Linked DNA regions of Homo sapiens. The protein of the gene in region 5 purifies or fractionates together with the protein of the main gene of each other region. This does not show direct contact. Each region holds a gene or a part of one and is shown on either strand. Other genes may lie near its edges. The genes, in order: ALAD, RDX, DBNL, AGFG1, LPP and EGLN2.

The links.
Region 1: the proteins of LPP (region 5) and ALAD fractionate together in Homo sapiens (co-fractionation; one large-scale study listed by BioGRID). This does not show direct contact.
Region 2: the proteins of LPP (region 5) and RDX fractionate together in Homo sapiens (co-fractionation; one large-scale study listed by BioGRID). This does not show direct contact.
Region 3: the proteins of LPP (region 5) and DBNL fractionate together in Homo sapiens (co-fractionation; one large-scale study listed by BioGRID). This does not show direct contact.
Region 4: the proteins of LPP (region 5) and AGFG1 fractionate together in Homo sapiens (co-fractionation; one large-scale study listed by BioGRID). This does not show direct contact.
Region 6: the proteins of LPP (region 5) and EGLN2 purify together in Homo sapiens (affinity purification with western blotting, with the first as the bait; one study listed by BioGRID). This does not show direct contact.

The regions. Positions count from the first base shown.
Region 1 is NC_000009.12:113,398,485-113,402,716, forward strand, and holds the start of ALAD (delta-aminolevulinic acid dehydratase), read right to left. Parts: upstream 2,801-4,232; 5' UTR 2,728-2,800; exon of another isoform or gene 1-2,727.
Region 2 is NC_000011.10:110,234,115-110,237,614, forward strand, and holds part of RDX (radixin), read right to left. Parts: coding exon 3,378-3,500; intron 2,078-3,377; coding exon 1,985-2,077; intron 1-1,984. UniProt on the Homo sapiens protein: Probably plays a crucial role in the binding of the barbed end of actin filaments to the plasma membrane.
Region 3 is NC_000007.14:44,047,702-44,051,201, reverse strand, and holds part of DBNL (drebrin-like protein), read right to left. Parts: intron 978-3,500; coding exon 922-977; intron 1-921. UniProt on the Homo sapiens protein: Adapter protein that binds F-actin and DNM1, and thereby plays a role in receptor-mediated endocytosis.
Region 4 is NC_000002.12:227,478,656-227,482,155, reverse strand, and holds part of AGFG1 (arf-GAP domain and FG repeat-containing protein 1), read right to left. Parts: intron 1-3,500. UniProt on the Homo sapiens protein: Required for vesicle docking or fusion during acrosome biogenesis. May play a role in RNA trafficking or localization.
Region 5 is NC_000003.12:188,608,657-188,612,156, reverse strand, and holds part of LPP (lipoma-preferred partner), read right to left. Parts: intron 2,997-3,500; coding exon 2,313-2,996; coding exon of another isoform or gene 2,292-2,312; exon of another isoform or gene 1-2,291. UniProt on the Homo sapiens protein: May play a structural role at sites of cell adhesion in maintaining cell shape and motility. In addition to these structural functions, it may also be implicated in signaling events and activation of gene transcription.
Region 6 is NC_000019.10:40,802,191-40,805,562, forward strand, and holds part of EGLN2 (prolyl hydroxylase EGLN2), read left to right. Parts: intron 1-3,372. UniProt on the Homo sapiens protein: Prolyl hydroxylase that mediates hydroxylation of proline residues in target proteins, such as ATF4, IKBKB, CEP192 and HIF1A. Target proteins are preferentially recognized via a LXXLAP motif.

The DNA.
Region 1 (4,232 bases), on a different chromosome or scaffold from region 5:
GAGCCTGAGACCGGGGCAGGGTTAGAGTAAAGGGAACAGTCTCACTACAGCAGTCCACTTTGATCTGTTTTTGAATTTTAAGATTCAGAGACAGATTTGATTTGAGAAACGGCTGTCAGTGCTGAAAATATTAAAAGCTTGAAAATTGCCAATCCTGTTTAATCCCTTACACTTTAATGTGGAAAATGGGGTATAAAGAGGCAACGGGACTTTTGGAGATCACAGTGAGTGACATACAGAGCTATAAACTGACCCTGCAGCTCCTGGCTTCTATTTCAGTGCCCTGATACCTACACCATAGAGTCATTCCATTGTAAGAGGTACTTAATAAGTGGAGTTTCCCACTCCATTCTGTGAGTGGGAAAACACCCCCTGAATCACATATTGGCAGAGCCAAATGCAGGGTGGGTTTTGCTTTGCAAAAAGGCCCTTAGAGTTTGGGAGAATTTCACAGACTGGGAGGGCACTTCTCCCAAATCAAGCGAGCTTGCAAACCACAATTTAAATGCCTGTGACATTACCACACTGAAGACAGGAGCGAGCCGCCAGGAGGTCCAGCACCTCTGCCCAACCACATCAGACAGGTTAGCTTTGCTGGGACGCAGAGTATAGGGCGGTGCAGAAAGATCCATGTTTCAGGGTCAGACAGTCCCAGGTTTGGTCTATGCTCTGCTGTGTAATTTTGGGCAAAGTAATTGACCTTTCAGTGTTCATTTCATAATCTACAAAATAGGCATGATATCTCTAACTTGCAAGGCTGTGGAGATTATTGATAGGGATAAGGTAGGTGTCTGGCACCAAGTAGCTGCACAGTAAACATGTAGCTACTTTTATTACTATTAGGAGTGGGGCTGGGTTGGAACGAGATGTCCTGGCACAGCTCTGTGCCTTCTGCACCTCACCAGATGGGAATATGAGCTCAAACCCTTGTGGGCCACAGGGTTTTCCAAGATTTCTGAAGTGGAGTCCCTGCCTTCCAGCAGGTTATGTGGTGGAGGAAAAACAAAATAATCACCACCGGGCTGCCAGAGTAGAGGGGTGGACCAGGTGCTGTCAGAGGGACTGTGTCTCTGAGTCAAGGGTGGTTTCATGGAAGAGGGGACAGTGAAGGATAAGAAGTGTTTCAGATTTAATATGAAAGTATCTCCTCCCATGGAAGGCAACATCCCCAAACTGGGAGTAACTGAAGTTGGGCCCTGAGCACTGCTACCAGGAGGGGCTATGAGCTTCATGTGCCACCCCCCACCCCTGCAAGTTGTACTATGCTGAGGATTCCAGAGGCTGTGGGTCTTCGCACAGAGGCTTAGGACCTGCTGCCAGCCCTGGCAGGCTCTGCCACTGGCCAGGGAGGAGGCAGTCAGGAGAGCCAGCTAGATAGAAGGTGGCCAGAACTGAGAAATCCAAAGCCCCACAAAGGCCCAGGAGAGCAGCTGTCATGCAGTTCTGAAAAGAGATGAAGTGTTTATTCAGCCAACCCACATTTCTTGAATATCTACTATGGGCCTGCTGAAGTGCTAGACACAGGGATTAAAGAGAAGAATGAGACCCCAGCCTTGCCCTGGGGCTTTGAAGAGCCTGATCGCCTCTGGGGTTAGCCATTTAGACGTAGGAGAAGCTGCCATTCCCAGAATCCTAGAATATCTTGGCTAAGAGTCTTCTTAAAGTTTGCTGATTGTATCACTGAAACAAGGGTGAAACTGGGCTCAGAGAGGGGTAGACACAGGCCCAGGATCACGCAGTGGGTCAGCGGCAGATCTGGGGGAAGGTCTCCAGCAGCCCAGTCCTCAGTGCCCACCATGACACCTCCATACTTTAAGGATAGATATCAAATCTGTTTCCCAGCAGGTTGGGCTTGTGGAGAGCTTTGGGTGAGCCAGACTCTGGGCCTGGCTGCTGTTGGTAGCAGGATGGTTAAGTATGTGGGCTCTGGAGTCTGATAGATGTGGGTACAAATCCTAGTTCTGTAGCTTTCTAGTTGTGTGACCTCAGTTTCTTCGTTTAGTAAATGGGGACTAGAACCGACCTCAATGGGTTGTTGTAAGAAATGAATGGGTCAGGCCGGGCGTGGTGGCTCACGCCTGTAATCCCAGCACTTTGGGAGGCCGAGGTGGGCGAATCACCTGAGCTCGGGAGTTCGAGACTAGCCTGACCAACAGGGAGAAACCCCATCTCTACTAAAAATACAAAAATTAGCAGGCGTGGTGGCACACGCCTGTAATCCCAGCTAGTTGGCAGGCTGAGGCAGGAGAATCGCTTGAACCCGGGAGGCGGAGGTTGCAGTGAGCTGAGATCGCGCCATTGCACTCCAGCCTGGGCAACAAGAGCGAAACTCCGTCTCAAAAATAAATAAATAAATAAAATAAATGAATGGTCAATGCACGCAACGCTTAGTACAAAACGGCTGTTATTGTTTTCACCTCCCTACCCCCCCACCAACCACCACCCGCACCTCGGGTTCTGCATCGATGGAGTCTGCCCAGGCGGTATCCGAGAGGGTGAACCCCAGAGAAGAGGTGCGGAGCCCCGAACCCGGGCCCCCAACCTCGGCTGCAGCGGGATAATCCAGCCCAAACAAACGCTCCACGGGACTCCGTGCACGGCTGCACCGCCAGGGCTTCAGGCGCACAGCACAATCTGGGGACGCAGGACTCTTGGTGCCACAGTCCCCGCCTCGCCCTGGAGCCGCCCTCCAGGCCCGCTATCTCCCCGCATCCAGCCCCCGCTCACCTGCCTCCCTAAGGGCTCCCGGCCGCTGCTCCTGTCACCGCTGTCTCCCGCTCCGGTCTCCCACAGACCGCGTAAGAGCGGGGGGGGCTCACCCGGAAGCAGCTTCCCCACGGTCCGCCCCCTCCACAGTCCAGGCCACGCCCCCTGAAGGCGGTCTTCTGGGGGGCTCCTCCGCTCCAGCCGCGGCCCCGCCCACACGCAACGAGGCCTGGCCAATTGGGTGTGTCGAGGGCCTGGAGGGCCCGCCCGTCCCCGCTCCGGGCCCTGCGCTTGTGCAGCGAACTGCAGGAGGGAGGCCACGAGGGGGCGCAGGAACCGCTTGGGAGGGTCCCTGGGTGTGAGCCGGCCTCGGAGGCGGTTACAGCCCAGGTTTCACTTCACAGCATTCCTTTGCCCAGCCTAGGGCAAACTTGGCTCTGGTTAATGGCTTGGTGAAAGAATAATTGGATGTCAAAGCCGTTAAAACAGCACCATTATGCCTAACACAGTATTAGCTAAGTCCATTTTTGCGGACTAAGCTAAAGTTGTTGAGTTCAGCGCCAGGCTTCCAAGTTTTCAGAGAAAATTTGTACCAGCTTCATTTATTTCTCAGGGTACGGCAATGCTATGAGTTGAGAGATGTGATGTGAAAGACATGGGCGTTTAGGAAAACTCCAAGTCTTGATAGGGGCATCAGACCTATGATAGGTACAATGATAGATCCGATCAAAGGTCTTTATGGAGATTGGAGATGTGCAGAGGCAAGAGGGATCTGGTGAGGCTTATGGGGCCTGGGTAAACCAGTAGGATTGGATGAGTAAAATGGCGATCGGGCATCATCGCCCTAGCGAAGCAATGCCTTTCAGGTGGTTCTTCAGGGATTATTGAAAAGTTGACTTTCAAATGTAGAGGACACTAGTGGGTTACATTACACTTATTCTCAGATTTTATTTCTCAGCCCGGTTCGGTGGCTCACGCCTGTAATCCCAGCACTTTGGGAGGCCAAGGCGGGCGGATCTCTTGAGGTCAGGAGTTCAAGACCAGCCTGACCAACATGGTGAAACCCTGTCTCTACTAAAAATACAAAAAATTAGCCGGGCGTGGTGGCGGGCTCCTGTAATCCCAGCTACTCGGGAGGCTGAGGCAGGAGAATCGCTTGAACCCGGGAGGCGGAGGTTGTAATGGGCTGAGATCATGCCACTGCATTCCAGCCTGGGTGACAGAGGGAGACTCTGTCTCAAAAAAAAATTTTTTTTTAAATTTCTCAAAATCTGTACCCCAAACCTGTTGTATACTTTATATTTTAAATTTAAGGGGCCTAGCGGCGTAAGGCTAGGGAAATATGACACTGCTTAGTTTCCAGCTACTGGAGTTCTGATCTGTATTCAACAAGGAAGGGGATAGAAAGCAAATAATGTTTGCTGTGCATTAAAGAGTCAGGGACAGTACCATGCATTTTACATTCATTTATCTAATCTTGACAGCAACGATGTTACTATTCTCACTTTACGGATTGGGAAAACAAT
Region 2 (3,500 bases), on a different chromosome or scaffold from region 5:
ATGTTCAATTATATGGAAGTCTCACCTTTGATGCACTGTAGTCAAAACATTTAATTTGAATTCCCCAGGTTCTAGATCTAACTTCTGGTTCAAAGGAAATACTGGAGTTAAAGGATAAGGTCAATGACACAAGGAAGTAACTAAACAAATATAGGAGGTGAGACATTCTGTAGGTCCCTTCAATAAATCAAAATAATAAAAAGAGAAACTGCCCTCCATTAAAAGAGACTTACAGCAAATACAGACAATGCAAAGTCCTCTGAACACTTGTCTGGCAAATTAGCTATGAGACTTTTTGGGAAATTCTTAATATAGTCTAATATTCTGAGATGAAAATTGACTAAAATGAAATAGTACATACAGTAAGATTTCATGTTGAATATATAAACAGGAAGTATCCTGGAAGAATATGTACTAAGGTTTTGCAGTATTTCCCCTAGTTTATGGGAATACAATTGTCTTTTGTGTGCATTTTCTAATTTTCTATAATTCACAGACTTGATATCTGTAATATGCTAATTTTTTAAAGTTTATGTGTCTCTAAATTTCATAAATCATCCCTAAAAGGGATCTAAAAAATTCTAATAAACAAGTAGAGTAACTGGGAAATTAACAGTAGCATTCCTTTTGTAGTTTTATTTATATATAACTAATTTTCAATACATATAAAATTACCCAATGAAATTTAAACTGCTACAAAGATTTACTTAAGAGTGCAAGAAAACTGTTTTCTGTATAAGTACATTTTATTGTAGAAAAATCATCTTCTAAAACTAAATATCATCTTTGGGGGTAAAAAAATTATCTTTTCAGTTAAGAGTTAATGTTGTTTGAATTAAACTCTCATTATCTTATATTCCCCCACTCTCCAACCAAAGCCTGATTTTACAATTGTGTGCTACTTTAGACAACAGTGGTTTCATCTACTTAGGACTCATATTAGAAATCTCGGTGTCAGCTGCACACAGTGGCTTACACCTACAATCCCAGCACTTTGGGGGCTGAGATGGGAGGGCTGCTTGAGGCCAGCAGTTCAAGACCAACCTGGGTTACACAGCAAGACCTCCATTCTCAACAAAAATAAAAATGATGGTGCATGCCTGTAGTCTCGGCTACTGCAGAGGCTGAGGTGGGAGGATCCCTTGAGCCCAGGAGTTCAAAGCTGCAATGAATTATGATTGTGCCACTGCACTCCAGCCTGGGACACAGAGTAAGACCATGTCTCTAAAAAAATAAAAATAATTCAACTTCATATCCAATCACTGGTTCCCATGCCTTTTTGTGACCACAAAATGTCTCTTATATCTTCCCATTCCTCTTTATTCTCATTTTCACATCCTCAGTTTGGGTCTTTATCTCTTAAGTATCCACTATCCCAATCCTTTCTTCACACTGATCACTACATGGTTTTTATAAAATCATATCTGATCATGTTACAATCCTGTTTTGAAATCTTCTAAGCCCCAAGTCAATCGATACTCCCACTGCCTTGCTGTAGCAGAGCATTTATTTAAAGCCTTTCACAATTCCCTATTATCAAACTTGAGGGCCACATCTCCTAACATTTCTGAACAACACTAAGCCTCGGCTGCTTATTGGTTATCCTCAAATCTATTATATACATTCATACTTCCTATACTCATTCAGTTCCCTCTGTCTAGAATGACTACTTCTTCAGTCTCTAACTATTCCCAATTTTACATCCCAATCTTTTGTACCCCCAAAATTTAATTCATTATTCAAGACCCAGCTTAAATGTATATGGGTCTCCCGACAACTCTCTGGTCCCCCAGAAATTAATCACCTCTTCTGTGTTCCCAAAGTACTTGGTTTATATCTGTAGATAGATATTTACAATACACATAACACGAGTATCTTTCCCACTCTAAATTATGACAGTATCTTACACTTATCACTACAAAGTCAGCATAATCCTGGGTATAAAAGCTATTCAATAAAAGCTAGTAAATGAATAAATGATTACTTTGTGTTGCCACTCAGTAGCTTCCTCTTCCTTTTTCTTCTTGGCTTCCTCTAGAAGTGCAATCTTGGCAGTGAATTCAGCAAGTTCTGCTGCCTAAAGTAAACAATATAATTCCAAAATTAAAATAACATATTTTGAATAATCTTATAAGTCAACAAAGTTTTAATGCACATGCTTAGGCTGTTTATGTTTTTCTTAGCCTTCCATTTAAAAAAATACAGTATTTCTTAAGATCTTAAATAGCTTATTTACAATAAGTCCTTTAGGTAATGAGCTAAGGAGACAAAATTAAAAAATTACTATTATTCTACAGACTAGTTAATCCTGCTTTCAGTAGCAGGAACTTAAAATGTGTAACTTAAAAGCTTTTTTAAAAAATTTCCATCAATAAACTATTTGTTAAAGTCCACAAAAGATAAAATATTTATCTAATGCTATATACTTTAAATGGCACTTTGTCAAATCATCTCATTTAATACCCCAATAATCCTAACAGGTAGTATCATTAACAGGTAGTATCATTCCTCCTTTTTTTTTTTTCAGACAGAGTCTCGTTCTGTCACCCAGGCTGGAGCCCAGTGGCACAATCTCAGCTCACCGCAACCTCCGCCTGCCAGGTTCAAGCAATACTCCTGCTTCAGCCTCCCGAGTAGCTGGGATTACAGGCGTGCACCACTGTGCCTGGCTAATTTTGTATTTTTAGTAGAGACAGGGTTTCGCCATGTTGGTCAGGGTGGTCTTGAACTCCTGACCTCAGGTGATCCACCTGCCTCGGCCTCCCAAAATGCTGGGATTACAGGCGTGAGCCACTGTGCCCGGCCATCATTCCTCTTTTCAAAGGGAGGGAACTGAGGCTCAGAAAGACCCAAAGACACATACATAGCAAGTACATGTGTGAACTAATATTTAAATCCAGGATCTTTTAAGTGACACGCTTACATCTAATTATTTGCAAGTCCACTAAATAAAAAAACCCAACCAATTATGGCCTCATAGGAACTATAACATATTATATATCTATAATATATTATATAACTATAACATATATCTATATTATATAACTATAACATATTAATTTATCTAAAGCAAAAGACGCCAACTGACTTATTACCGAACCTGTCCAATGTCAAAGTGAATCAGAACCTTTTGCTGACAGTAGACTCCATTTACAAATAATCTATAGAAAAATGCCTTATTCTTTTGTATTTTTAGGTTTTTGTTTAGGCAGAAATAAATTTTCTAGGTTTTTGTCTACATTTTGTTATTAAGTTACATGTTATCTTTGGCTTGCTCTCCAGAAAGCACAAAATGGTTGCTTTTCTTTTTTTCTTTTTTAGAGGGTTCACTCTATGCTTTTATTTAAACTTTTTTCTCTAAGAAGACAGTTCCTTACTAGCTGCTCCTGATTCTTCATCTGGTCGGCAGCTTGTTTTGCTATGGCAGACTTTGCCTCTTCAGCAGCTCGACGCTCCTTTTCAAGTCGTTCTGCTTCTTCTTTTGCTCGTTTTCGTTCTTG
Region 3 (3,500 bases), on a different chromosome or scaffold from region 5:
AGGAAGAGCTGATCAGGTATTTCATCTACAGGGCTCCGTATGAGTGGAGGCAGTCATGAGCCCCACTCTGGGGACAGCAAATTGTTGCATTTGTGGCAGAGCCCTGTCCTGTGCCACTGGGGATGACAGGAAACTCTCAAGTTGTTGATCTCTGCAACTCCCAGTCACCTGCCACACCACATGTCTACTGTTCAATGGCAATCCTTCTAGAAAGGGGACACCTCCCAGAAAGATTGTGAAAGGAAGGGGCTTTCTACCAACAACAGACATCAAACCGTGGAGAACCACTCCGAGTGTTCATTGAACAATGAAGCCATGTCCAGCTCAGGACAGAGGGAGGGGTCAGGCAACTTCTGGAGGAGGAGCAGTCACGGGTGTCAGCTGAGGGGCCCACAGGTCACACTCTGACGAAGCCTACCCTGACAACCTCTGCTCTGTGCTGGCCAAGAGCCTGTCCTTCCTGTAGAGACCTCCAGAGCCTCCCCCGTGACTATCTGCAGTGATACTGCCTCTCCCAGTGAGGATGGGGCCCCTGCAAGCACTCGGCACAAGACCAGGGCAGGACAAAGGGAGAAGAAGATATGTCTGTGGACTTTCTTTCCACCAGCACCAGTTCTGGGACTGGTGAGCTTCCCACCGCAGCTCCCAACGCAGGCTGCCCACAAGCTGGAGAGGCCTGTTTCCCTCTCAGCTCTCCCCAAGTAGACAAAGAGAAAGCACTCCCCTGCACCCAGAGGGAAGGAGAACCAAGGAGGAATGTTTTCACTTACACATATCTGAAACCTAAGGCCTGCCAGAAGTGGCCAGTGAGCACTGGAAGCCCCATGTGGCTCAGTGGACCAAGACAGCTGAGTGCGCTGACCCCTCGTCGTCACCCTCCTACCTCCTGGTGTCCCTGAGTCCATTTGGAGTCATACTCACCCCCTGTGCCAGCCACGCGGATGTCATTGCTGTTGCCTTCATAGGTAAAGAGAGCCCTGAAACGAAACACAAGTGAGCTCTGTAGCCAGCACCTTGGGTTCCATCTCTCCTCACCGTATCCACCATGACTTTCCACTACATCCCAAAGAGCTTGGGCTGACAGTAACACTGTGGGTGGGCACAGGCCCGTTCTCACTTTGCTCTGACCCACTAGGCAGGTTCTCAGTAGGCAACTGTGCAGCCTTCTCAGCTCTGCAGCTGGGAGGACACTGGCCTGACTTACCATGGGGTGGGGGTTGTGAGGGACAAAGCCATGGAGATGGGAGCACACATCTACTATGAGGAAAACATGAGCTGTGGAGTTTCCCAATGACTGCTATACATTCATGTGTCAAATACTCACCTGGCCACTAGGTATATGGATTTGAAGAGACAAAACATATCTACATATTCCTGAACCCAGAGCACCCAAAAGGAGAAGCAAGTCGGAGAAATACACACACTGGGCCCCTTGGAAGGCTGCCCACCACTCCTGTGCACGTCTGCCCTGGCTCCAGTGAAGCCTGGTGGGTAGGGCAGCAGGTCCTTCCAGGCTTGAGACTCTTTGGTAAACACAGACTACCACAGGTTGTGTTTATCAGAAACCACAAAGGAATGACACGACATGAAATCACACAGTTAAAGCCATGAACCTGCCAAGCCCCTCACGGACAGGTACCCATGAGCAAGTTTTCTATCTAGCAGAGCCTTATCTCTCCATGGGTGACATGGGGCCATGGCTTTCTTTTCCTGAAAGATTAATTATTCATAAGAACTTTGGGCTGGGCGCAGTGGCTCACGCCTGTAATCCCAGCACTCTGGGAGGCCGAGGCGGGCAGATGTGGATCACGAGGTCAGGAGATCGAGACCATTCTGGCTAACACGGTGAAATCCCATCTCTACTAAAAATACAAAAAATCAGCTGGGCGTGGCAGCAGGCACCTGTAGTCCCAGCTACTCAGGAGGTTGAGGCAGGAGAATGGCATGAACCCGGGAGGCGGGGCTTGCAGTGAGCCAAGATCGCGCCACTGCACTCCAGCCTGGGCAACAGAGTGAGACTCCATCTCAAAAAAAAGAACAGAACTCTGGGCCAGGTGGGTGGCTCGTGTCTGTAATCCCAGGACTTTGGGAGGCTGAGGCAGGAGGGTCGCTTGAGCCCAGGAGTTTGAGACCAGCCTGGGCAACATGGTGGGACCCTGTCTCTACCAAAAATACAAAAATCAGCCAGGCGTGGTGGCATATGCCCGTAGTCCCAACTACTCGGGAGGCTGAGGTGGGAGGATTGCTTAAGCCTGGGAGGTCGAGGCTACAGTGAGCCATGATGATGCCATTGTACTCCAGCCCAAACAACAGAGTGAAACCCCAACTCTTAAAAACAAAAACAAAAACAAAACTCTGGTAAAGATTCATTCTGGCTTGCTAATAGCATGAACCTTGCAGCAACTGAACATCCCCAGCAGGGCTGCTGGACATGGGCTGGAGGCACTGACCCACTGGACTATAAGTCAAAGGCAAAACCCAGTCCAGTGTGTGTCATCTCCCCAGGCTCTAAAGCACAGGCCTGCTGAGGCAGGCCAGACAGAAGCTCCAGGGATAAACAGTCGGACAGGAACCAAATCAGCTTCAACTTGGCTTCCCCAGGGCTTTGCCAGTGCCACTGGGCAGAGATACTTATGCCTCAGAAAAATGGAAGAAATTAGACCCAGGCCCAGTGGATCTGGTTGGTAGGGAGGAGACAGGCCTCCGGGAAAAGGCACTCCTTACCAGGAGGGGAGACAGAATACAGGAGAGAAACACTGAATGAGAAACACTCAGAGAAAAGGAACTAGAGAAAAGAACACAGAAAAACAAGAGAAAGATTTGGGAGGTGGCACACTGCCAGCATGAGCTGGGGGGAACTCCCTGGAGGAAAGAAGCCCATTCCTCTTGATGGCCACAAAGCCCTGGCTCCCAGAAGATAGCAAGCTGGCACAAGCAGCAGGTAACAGAAGATGGCAGCTCAACCCAGCTCTTGCAAGAAGGGACTCAACCAGCTGCGATGGCTCATGCCGGTAATCCCAGCACTTTGGGAGGCCAAGGCGGGTGGATCACCTGAGGTTAGGAGTTTGAGACCAGCCTGGCCAACATGGGAAACCCCGTCTCTACTAAAAATACAAAATTAGCTGGGTGTGGTGGTGGGTGCCTGTAATCCCAGCTACTTGGGACGCTGAGGCAGGAAAATCACTTGAACCTGGGAGGCAGAGGTTGCAGTGAGCCAAGATCGTGCCACTTCACTCCAGCCTGGGCGACAGAGCAAGACTCTTGTCTCAAAAAAAAAAAAAAAAAAAAAAAGGGACTCAGCAGCTAATATAATAAGAGCCAAGCTCAATGCCTGCCACCTATCCCTCTGACTTGATCCCTCTCTACCCCAGGCCACCTTTAAGAATGTTCCCAGCGCAGAGGCTCATTCCCAGTTCAGAGGCCTTTTGAAAGAAGGGCGAAGGAAGTTTCAAATCAACATGAAAAAACATGGTGCACTGGCCTCTGAACAGCAAGGCATA
Region 4 (3,500 bases), on a different chromosome or scaffold from region 5:
CGGTGGCTCACGCCTGTAATCTCAGCACTTTGGGAGGCCGAAGCGGGCAGATCACGAGGTCAGGAGATCGAGACCATCCTGGCTGACATGGTGAAACCCCGTCTTTACTAAAAATACAAAAAATTAGCGGGGCAAGGTGGCGGGCGCCTGTAGTCCCAGCTACGTGGGAGGCTGAGGCAGGAAAATGGCGTGAACCCGGGAGGCAGAGCTTGCAGTGAGCAGAGATCGCGCCCCTGCACTCCAACCTGGGCAACAGCGAGACTCTGTCTCAAAAAAAAAAAAAAAAAAAAAAGTAGTGGACAAAATCTAAATCTCTTCACATGCCCAAACCCACAACGAAATGACAGTAAAGGAATAAGAAGGTATTAACCCACAAGAGACAGAGGGTTACCATGATGTGTTTATCTCATACTGCATGCCTGTATCAAAACTCCTATCTTGTGTACCTCATAAATACATACACCTACTATGTGCCCACAAAAATTAAAATAAACAGAGCGTCAGAGAACAAGAGAAGAGTCCAAAAGCACACGACAGTTCTTGAATAACAAAATTTGGAAGATTTAAAAACAAAATACCAGCAGTAAGTGACTTTATGGAGAAAGCCAAAACAGAAGCTTCTGCAAAGGTGGGAGAAGCCAACTGGAAACTGATTCCCACCACAGGACATATCAAGATTTACTGAAGGAACTGGATACAGGTGAGGGCTTAAAGTGGGGTCAGAAATCATTAGACTCTCCAGTTCCTTAACAGCCAAAAGCATACTCCCACCAGCCCTAGGTGGGAAGTCTGAAGGAAAGTTTTAAAGAGGTTATACCACAGAGACTTCAAACTCAAGACACTGCTGAAGACTCTTGTTAGGGACCATGTGGAAAGCTGGAGGATTATCTAAGATCAAACACACAGAATGACAGTCACCTCCCTCAACTTGGTTCCCAGAACAGTGGCATCACAGGCTTTTATATTCCCCAAAAAAGAAGATTGGAGAAAATATGTCTGCACTATAAAAAGCGTGAGTTTCCAAACAAATTCAAAAAAAAAAAAAAAAAAAAAAAAGCCTAAAACACTGAACAAAAGACCTACACCAAAATACTTCAATATGAGGTTCTGAACAGCAGGAAGAAAAGAAGATCTTACATACTCCAAAAGAGGGAAGAAAAGAAGTGGGTCAGAAAGACTCAGTAATAAGAATAGCATCAGACTTCTCAACAGCAACACTGAAGGTTTGAAGACAACTAAGCAATATATTGAAAGTTCCAAGGGTAAAGTATTTTCACCTTTGTGAATGTAGGCAAACTAATTTTTAAAAAGAAGGCAGAATAAAACATTTTCAGCTTTGTGGCTTTCAAAAATGACCTCTCATTCACCTTTCATCAGGAGGCTAACGGAAATGTTGGGGGTCCTGGAAACAGAGCATCTAACATAGGTTACAAGTGAAGGGAATTTCCAGAATGAAGATAGAAGAAAAGTTCTGGTATGAGAGCCGCACAGCAGGCCTAGACAGCAGCATTTCCAGAGCAGAAGATTATAAAAGTACCCAGAAACAGTTAAAAAAAAAAAAAAAGTAGCTGATGCATCTGATCATATTGAAGGAAGTTCATTGCAGCTCATGCCTGTAATCCCAGCTACCAGGGAGGCTGAGGCAGGAGAATCACCTGAACCTGACAGATGAAAGTTGTAGTGAGCTGAGTTGGCGCCACTGCACTCCAGCCTGGGAGATGGAGTGAGACTCCATCTCAAAAATAAAATAAAATAAAATAAGAAATATGGAAAGACAAGAATTTTTGGAATCTGACAATTACAAGGAAAATTCCTCTTTCCTTTTCTGAACATACACTGTTTCTCCATAACTTACAAACACTGGTGTTGCATCTCCCCCTAGAGTCGTAAAAATAAATGTATTACCTCTCCCAATGCCTTAAATTACCCAATGACAGTGATCATGTGTACAGCTCCCCCACTGTCTAATCTTTTCTTCTTTAAGCTAGTAGCATTTTTGGTTCCTGCAAATGTTCCTCTAATACATAGTTTCAAACTTCCTTACCATCTTGATCAGATTCCTTGGAGCATGCTCCAGTTTGTTAACATTCCTCTTAAAACAAGCAACCAGAATAAAAGTAAGGTATAATTATGACCTCTACAAAACATGTATGGTGTCAATCAAAAAGATTGCTATCTTAGTCAGAAGTCTTTGAGCAAAGTATGTTCTAACACAAACAAAAATTAATTCTCTGTATTTCAAACAACTCAAATAAGTTTCCTGTCCCCACTGAATAGCTCATGAATTTCATTCTAATGTTCAATCAGGTGTCTTTAGCAATAGTTCTCGTGTGTAAGGTTGTAAAAAATGTCACAAGGAACATGCTATTAATGTAAGTACTCAAAGTTATAACTGATTTTAAAACGTTTTTACATACATTAAAGGTATCCAAGTTGTATTTCCCTAGACAATCATCACTTTGATTTGAATTAGAAAACACATTCAAGTGGGGGAAAAAATGAGGGGGAGTAGTAAAACCTAGTCCCGAATATTTCCATAGGAGTTTCTCACAAATGTGAACATCATGCACGCTGCACAGAAAAGAAGGAAAATATCAAATAAGGAGATTTGCCTGTTTTCCAAAGAATGCTATTGGAACAGATACAGAGGTTTCTAAAAAGACAATGATTTTCAAATTGAGATCCAGAGGTCGGCAAGTTCTTTTAAAACAATGTCTTAATTCTTTTCATTTATAATGCACTAATATTATAAAATTTAATGTAAATTTAATCTAAACTGTATTTTATCCACTTTGAAACTAAAAGCCAGTGTTTAAAAATCACATGCCAAAAATGATGGATGAATGAATAGGGAACAGAAAAAGGCTTAACATGGCAATAATGCCTTTATACTCAGTTATGGTCAAATGATGTCACCACAACCTGAATGCTGGAGTTTTCCCAGTATAAAAGGTACCCACAGCACTATACAGAAGAGTCCTTCTTATCCAATTTGCTGGTTAAATCTATGTTTCTCCTTCCCTCTGAGAAACCTAAAGTTAATGCCTACTGCACAATGAACATTCATGGCTAGAAGGCCACTTTCTCCTGCTCCTCTCTCAGGAGAGAGTGAGTTTTATGCTTATCAAAATTTGTCTGGTATAGTATTTGGTAATATAGTTGGTACAGTACTTGGTAAGTATATAGTTTAAGTGAATGTCATGTAAAACAATGGCATGAGTGAGAAGAATTATTTCCATGTAAACTAAGTATTTTTAGAGACTAAAACAAGTCACTAGGATAAGCTGTTATTTGACCATGGAAAAGAACTGTAAAAGACTGAGAGAAAAATCATAAAAATCTAGAAGAATTCAGCATTCAAACTGTTTTATAAGTACATTAAAATGCTAAAAATCATAAATAGTACAGCATGAGTCTGGGTTATATTAGGGGACAAAGAATCTAATCAGTGGACCCATATTCAAAGCCTTATGTGCCAGCAAATTAACAGTTGTATGTTA
Region 5 (3,500 bases):
GCACAGCCGAATATGATGTGAAAACACATGAAACTGTTGAAAAACAAATATATCAAAAATTTTAAAAATAACATGAAATCTACTGATATCCAAAATCTGTAATCATCTAATAGATCATCTTGAATAACCACCTTGCTCAAATAAGAAGTAAAATAAAGTTCCATGTTTTCTGATGAGTGGTTTATAAAAATTCATTCCATCTCCCTGTGTCAGTTGGTGAGGACAGGCCAAATGTTAGGGATGTGGCTGGACCCAGCACTTTAGATCCAGTTCTAGCAGTGGGGGCTGATTCTTTTTCCTACACCAATGGATGGGTTCCAAATGCTGAAGAGAGGCTGGCCAGAGTGCCCAGTGACTTAGTGAGAAAACAACATCTGAAGACTAGCTCAGTACCTCTCACCAGGTGAGTCTCATCAAGACACATAGTTTTGCTTTCTCTCATGTCTGGTTCCTATGTGGGATAACACAATCCTCCAACAAGGCAGACACCATGTCATTCCTTCAGGAACATCACTCAGCCATCCTTTCAGTCACCCTGTTTTGGGCAGGGCTAAATTGTCTGTCTAGTTGAACTTAAACCTTGACAGCAGTTGTTCTGACCTAAAATTTTATTTTACTGTAATCTTCCCTGGGTAAATCTGTTGCAATTGTTGAAAACAAAAACTGTGGTTAAGTTGAATAATCTGTTTCTCTGAACTGGTTGTTTTGAAAATAGACTCCCCTTGACTGGGCCAGGAGGCACTGGTGCAAATATACTGCGACATTAACAAAGAGCAAGGCTGTCCAGATTGGCTATTATGGACAAATTCATTTTAAAAAGAAATAAAAAACTGTAATAACATTTCTTTTCATAGAGAGACTTAAGAAACTGAGTCATGTTTAAAATCATTTAAAATTCTAATTTGGAATCTATCTATCGGAAAGGGATCATGGCTGGCCAATTTCATATAGTGGTCACACATAAGGCTATAGGATTTCTCCAGCTCTTCACAGTCCCCACTGTCAGGAAGAGCTCTATTCCCCTATAGAATGTGAAATTCACATAGGACACCATTAATATGGCAGACGCTTTCATATAAGAAAAACAGTTTAGTAAATACCCTATAAGGAAATTTTTGATACAATGTTGAATATGTGAATAGATCTGTCTTGAAATGGACAATCTTGTAAAAATGTGGAAAGAATTTTTAAAAATACAGTCCAAACTTCTACCCAATCCATCCCCCAAAACTACCATTGAACTTCTAGCTAATTGAGGGCTCTCAAATTTCTGATTTCTCACAGTTCTAACTGAAAAGAAGCAAGGGCACTCTTCCAACCCAAGTGGCTGGAAACTGGCTCAGTTCCTCTATTTTCACCGATTCCAAGTTATTCTTATTGGTTCCTCTAGTCATAATGGGAGGAATCAACATCGTGTTGGTTCCAGTACTAATGAAAAATCCAAGTTGTGGTGAGTGGGCATGTGTAGTATTACACCTTACCTATTCAGACGAAGTAACAGAGAGTGTTAACTTAAAAGGTCCACATATGGACAATTAAATCAAATAAGAAGTAACTGTCACTCATAAGGAGTTTTTAAACATTGCTTAATAGTGCTAAAGGCTGAAGAATAAGATTCTTTCTGGAGGATTAGTAAAATGAATAAACAAGGGGTCACAAACAAGCTGCATTATACTGCAGCCCCTTCTCAAAGGAGAAACTGTCCAAGGCATTTGCATTATCTTAGACCTGCTTGGCCTCACCCATTTCCTGGGTCCTTGGCCACTTGTTCTGGCCCAGCAACCGCTGTGGTACCAACATTGCGGGAGTTATAATCGCCTTCACAGGGCCACAGCCTGACAGCAGTTCACTCAGTTTTGCCCTCCACATGTCTCACCCATAGATCACTACCCTTGCTGAGGCTTGAGATACTACAGACCTGTTTAATGTCCAAGCAAATGCAAGGTGTAGAGGAAGTTTCTGCACAACAGAGGGAAGCTTTAACCAATATAGGGAAGGATGTGAAAAATAAATTATTTTCTCTTTCTCCATCAGAACACTTTGTCCTCAGATGCTATGGTGTCTGTGGGCTTTGGAAGATGATTCTCTGAGATTGAGCAAGCAATTCCATTTGATACTAAACAGTGGCCATATTAGTAACATACTAAGTAGTCTCTCTCTCCTCTCTGGCTTCACTCATCCTTCCCTGGGATTGTATTTGTCAGTGAAATAAAAGTAACACACACACTTTTGCCTTAGGCTTCGCTTCCTGGGGAAGGCAGACTAAGATAGGCACCCCTGTATTCTCCTCCTTATGTTACTGAGTTTCTTACCTTTGGCTGCAATGGTGGCGCACAGGGGGCTGAAACAGGATCTGTGATATAGGTCTTCTTGGGACCAGTGACTGGATACATCCCAGGAGGGTTCTGGTTCCCTGCTCCAGGAGGAGTGTACCCTGGTTCCCGTTTCCAGGTATTTGGGTGACCTTGTTGACCATAGGTAGGGTCAGAGTCATTTCTGCCCCCATAGCCTGGCCCTGCTGCATAGTAGCCTTCATAATAGCGTCCCTGGTTGGGGGCATACCCATACCCAGGCTCCGGCTGAAGTCCTGGTGGTGGAATGTAGGCATAATCCATGCCTCCCCGTGTTGAAGGAGGTGGACACTGCCCAGAGACAGGAACTGGCTGAGTGTTATAGCCCTGGGGCCCTGAGCCATAAATTTGTCCTGATGAAGGGGCAGCCATATAATGAGGGCTGGGCTGGGCTGACTTCACCTGCACATTAAAGGTAGGCCTTGAAGAAGTGGAGGCCGTGGTGTAGGAGGCTGGGACTGGCTGAGGCTGGGGTTTGAGTGTTCCGATTGGAGCCACAGGGATGGGTCCAGCCTGGGGTGCAGGCTGTGGTTTCAATGTAGACTTCTTGGTTGCTGTTAGAGGGGGTTGGTTCGGGATGACCATTCTCTTGTGTCCTGTGACTGGGGTCGAAACTGGAGGAGAGGCTGTTGAACCAGTGGAGCTCTAAAAAGAATAGGAAAAAAAAGAAAGAAAGAAAGCAAAAATTACTGCCAACGAAACTCAATAAAAATGAATAAATGAAAAATATTAATAACTGCTAATTATTATTTATTACTATGTAGAACACAAATAAGGCATAATCTTGCCTTCAAAGTGTTCACAGATGAACACAAAAATCAGTTGTATATCTGTGCACTGCCGACGAATAGCAGAAAAGGAAAGAAAGGAAAAAATTCTACTTACAGTAGCATAAAAAACTTGGAAAAAAGTTATCTAAGGAGGAGAAAGATTATATACTGAAAACTATTAAACATCGGTGAAAGAAATTATACAAGACACAAACAAACGGATAAACATCTGTGTTCATAGGTTGAAAGACTTGATATTGTTAGAATGTATATCCTACCCAAAGTTATCTATAGATGCAGTGAGATCCCTATCTAAATACCAAAATGAAGTTTTACATACATAGAAAAAACAATTCTAAAACTCACATGGAACCACAAA
Region 6 (3,372 bases), on a different chromosome or scaffold from region 5:
GAGTGAGCCCTGGGCTGAGGGAAGGAAAGGGGTGCTGCCCGCTGGGCCGAGTGCTTGGCCCTGGACTGCATTGTGCCCTGGGTCCCCACTGTGGCATCTGCATCGAGGACAGTCTCCTGGGGGTGGTACTGGGTGGCTGCCTGTTGGCCCAGGTGGAGCTCATCCCCATGTCTCCCACCCTTCACTGTCCCAGTCCCTGCCCTCCATTCCCCCTGTCCTGTGTGTCACTTCCTCCCTACCCATGTCTGTCTCTTCCTCTGCCTTTATGTGTTTGTTCTTAGTCCCTTTTTCTTTTTGCTTTAGAACAATAGTTCTTAATGGTATTTTGGAGCCTGGGTCTTTTTGAGAATCTGTCAGAGGCCACAGATCCTCTCTTAAGACAAATGCTCATTTGCTTGGAGTTTCCGGGCAGTTGTCAAGGCCTCATGGCCTCCAGCTGCCTGTTCAGGAACCTGGGGTCAGGAGCCCAGCACAGGACAGTGGTCCATAGGGCCTTTCCGGGCTGCTGACAGGATCATTGTCTTCATGGGTGGTGTGGGGGCCTGGCCTTGAGTCCAAGGCTTGGTGTCCTTTGGACAAGGCCCTGTGGGGAGTGCCCACTGCTCAACACAGTGATGCCTGGCTGGCTGATGGCACGGGCAGTGTTGTGCCCTGCAGGCGTGAGGCTGAGCTCCTGATGTCCTCTGCCTCCTCCTGCAGATCCCATCTTGGGTTCTGCTTCTGTGTGGCTTTCCTCTCAGGCTGGAGCTGGCTCAGGGACCAGGGCTCCCCCGGGGCCAAGGCCTGTTTCCTCCCCACCCCAGCTGGAACTTGTTCTACTTCCCTCTCCCTCCCGTTACTTGATAGCTGAGCCAGAGCCGGCCCCTCCCTGGGCTTGGCTCCTGTGCGGGCGGGATCAGTGGCCTCCCTGGCTCAGCATCTTCACCCCAGGTTGGCTGTCGTCCTCGTCAGGGGGAGACCAGAAGGGCTGAGTGGCCCAGATGGGACACTGCTCTGAGCCTCAATTTGCTGATCCACGGAATACGAAAACCAGGTTACATCCCCAGTGAGTCTGGCAGTTTGGGGAGGGGAGAGTAGGAGAAGATCTCTTGTGTTTTGGTGCCTCTGGTGCCCACTTTCTATGTGGTTGGGGACAGGGCCCCAGCGAGGATTGGGGAAGGGGCGTGTTTGGACTTTTTTAGCCCTAGGTGACCTTGATTGTCCTAGGGAAGTAAGGACAGGCCAGGCTGGACTGAGAACATAGGGGAGGAGCCCTCCCCTCCCCAGTGAGACAGCAACTCCAGGCTTTCCCGCTTTTAGATGGGCCCCATCTGGACTCTCTCCTGTACTCCAGAGTAAGGCTGTGGGGTGCTCAGGTGGGCTGCAGCAGTTGCCGTGGGGACATGGATCACCAGTGTGGCTAGAGCCAGTAGAAACGTGCTTCTTAGTCGTTCTGAGTGGAGCTCCTGTGTCATCCTTCCTTCCCCCAACTCCCTGGTTGGGGACAGGTGCTCCGTTGACCTGTAGGTGGGAGAGAGTTGACTCCCACTGGCAGCAAGGGCTACCAGAGGGGACCCCAGGGAGAGTCCAGCTTGCTTGGTTTGCTCCTTGAAGAGCAGCTTGGAGGTGGGACAGTCACAGGCTTCTGACTGGGGTGTGTGTGTAGTGGGGGTGGGGCTCTTGGCAGGCAGATTGTCACCAATAGCCTTTAAGTCTTTGGTCTCCTGGCCCTGGTCCCACCTGTCCCTCCCCTAGGTGGGAGGGGTGGAGAGCAAGTTTCCTGAGGCCTTCCCCTGTGAGGGCAGGAAGTAGATACTTTCCTTGGGGCCAGAGGATGCTTTCACCCCCAAGGTGTGTATATGTGGGGGAAGGGTGGGGCCCTAAAGAGCAGGTTCCTGTTTCTGTGTGAGTCCCATGTGCTTGGTGGGAGGCGCTGTGTGAGAATGTACAGGGCAGGAGGAAACATAGCAGGGCTGGGGTGCAGAGGAGGCCCAGAGCAGTGCACTCCAGTCTGCAGGTACTGCACTGGGCACTGGGGAGACCAACCTGGCCCCAGGGGCTTCCCTGTGGCTGCCTTCCAGGGCAGTACTAGGTAAACAGGTGCCTGTGCTGATGCCATGTTGCTAGGAGTGGAACGGACAATCAGCCGGAGTACTCAAGGTGACCCTTGGTCTCTGAATCCTGAATAACAAAGAGGGTCAGAAGGAAGAGTGTCCCAGGCCAGTGCTGAGGCCTTGTGGTGGCGATGAGCTCAGCCTGTTGAGGCATGGAGCAGAGTGATGGGAGAGGCACATGAGGTTGGGGGCCTTTGAGGCTGTGGTTGGGAATTTGTATTTTCTCAGGATGGAGTGAAGACCTGGAGAGGAGGGGCTCTGGCTGCTGTGTGGGGATGAATTGTGGGAAGAGGGTGCAGCACTGGACCCCTTCCCTGCCACCCATCCACGTGCATCATCAGTGTAATCTCTGATTGGATTCCTAATTGGGGAGGTCTTGCCCATCTCTAGTCAGTAACTCACTGTTTCTAAGCCTCCTGGACCATGGCCCAATTCTTCTCCCAGTGAGGTGGTTGCTCAGAGTGCCGACCCTTCCATAGGGAGTGAGCAGTGCAAAGAAGGTGCCCCCTCCTGAACCTTGAAGTGTAGCCATTAGGGTTTTCCCTGGGGGGCCTTCTCACTAATTGTACTCTGGTGCTGCCAGAGAGAAGGTTGTCAGCTTCCCACTGCTAGGTGGCAGTAGATGGTGGCAGCCCTCTCTTTCCAGGGCAAGGTCTGGTGGATGAGGTGCACATGGTTAATGCAGAGCAGCTTAACATCCACCACAGAGGGTGAGCCCTGGGATAATGTGTTGGGAGGCGTCCTGGGGAGGGTGAGGATTGAAGCAGCCCAGTCTGCTGTGGCGTGCGTGCTTGGCAAGCATCCTGTTGTGGCAGTGGCCACTGATGTTTGATCGTGAATGTTTATCTTGGGACTGTCTTGCTGGGCCGGGCCCATAGGTGTAGCTGAGCATTCGTGGGGAATGGACGCCAGCAGAGTTGTACCAGGGCAGAGAGGTCAGGGCAGAGAGGTCAAGACAGATGGTCCGGGCTGGGGAGAAGTTGAAGGGTCCTTGTGCCAGTCCTCCCCTTTTTGTGTGCTACCTCATCTTGCCACTGCAGTGACTTTGGGCAGAGGGTGGGACAGGGACCTTTTAAAATTTTTAAATGGCATTTCAGCCTGTGCTCCAGTTCTCCATGTGGCAGGCACTGTGCTGGCTGTCTTCCCAGACACTTGTTATCTTGTTCACTTGTTCCACAACAACCTGTGAAATAGCTGTGAGCTCCATTGGATCCATGGATGAGGAACCTGAGACCAGGAAGTCACCTGCCTGATGCCACAGCTCATGTGGCAGCACTGA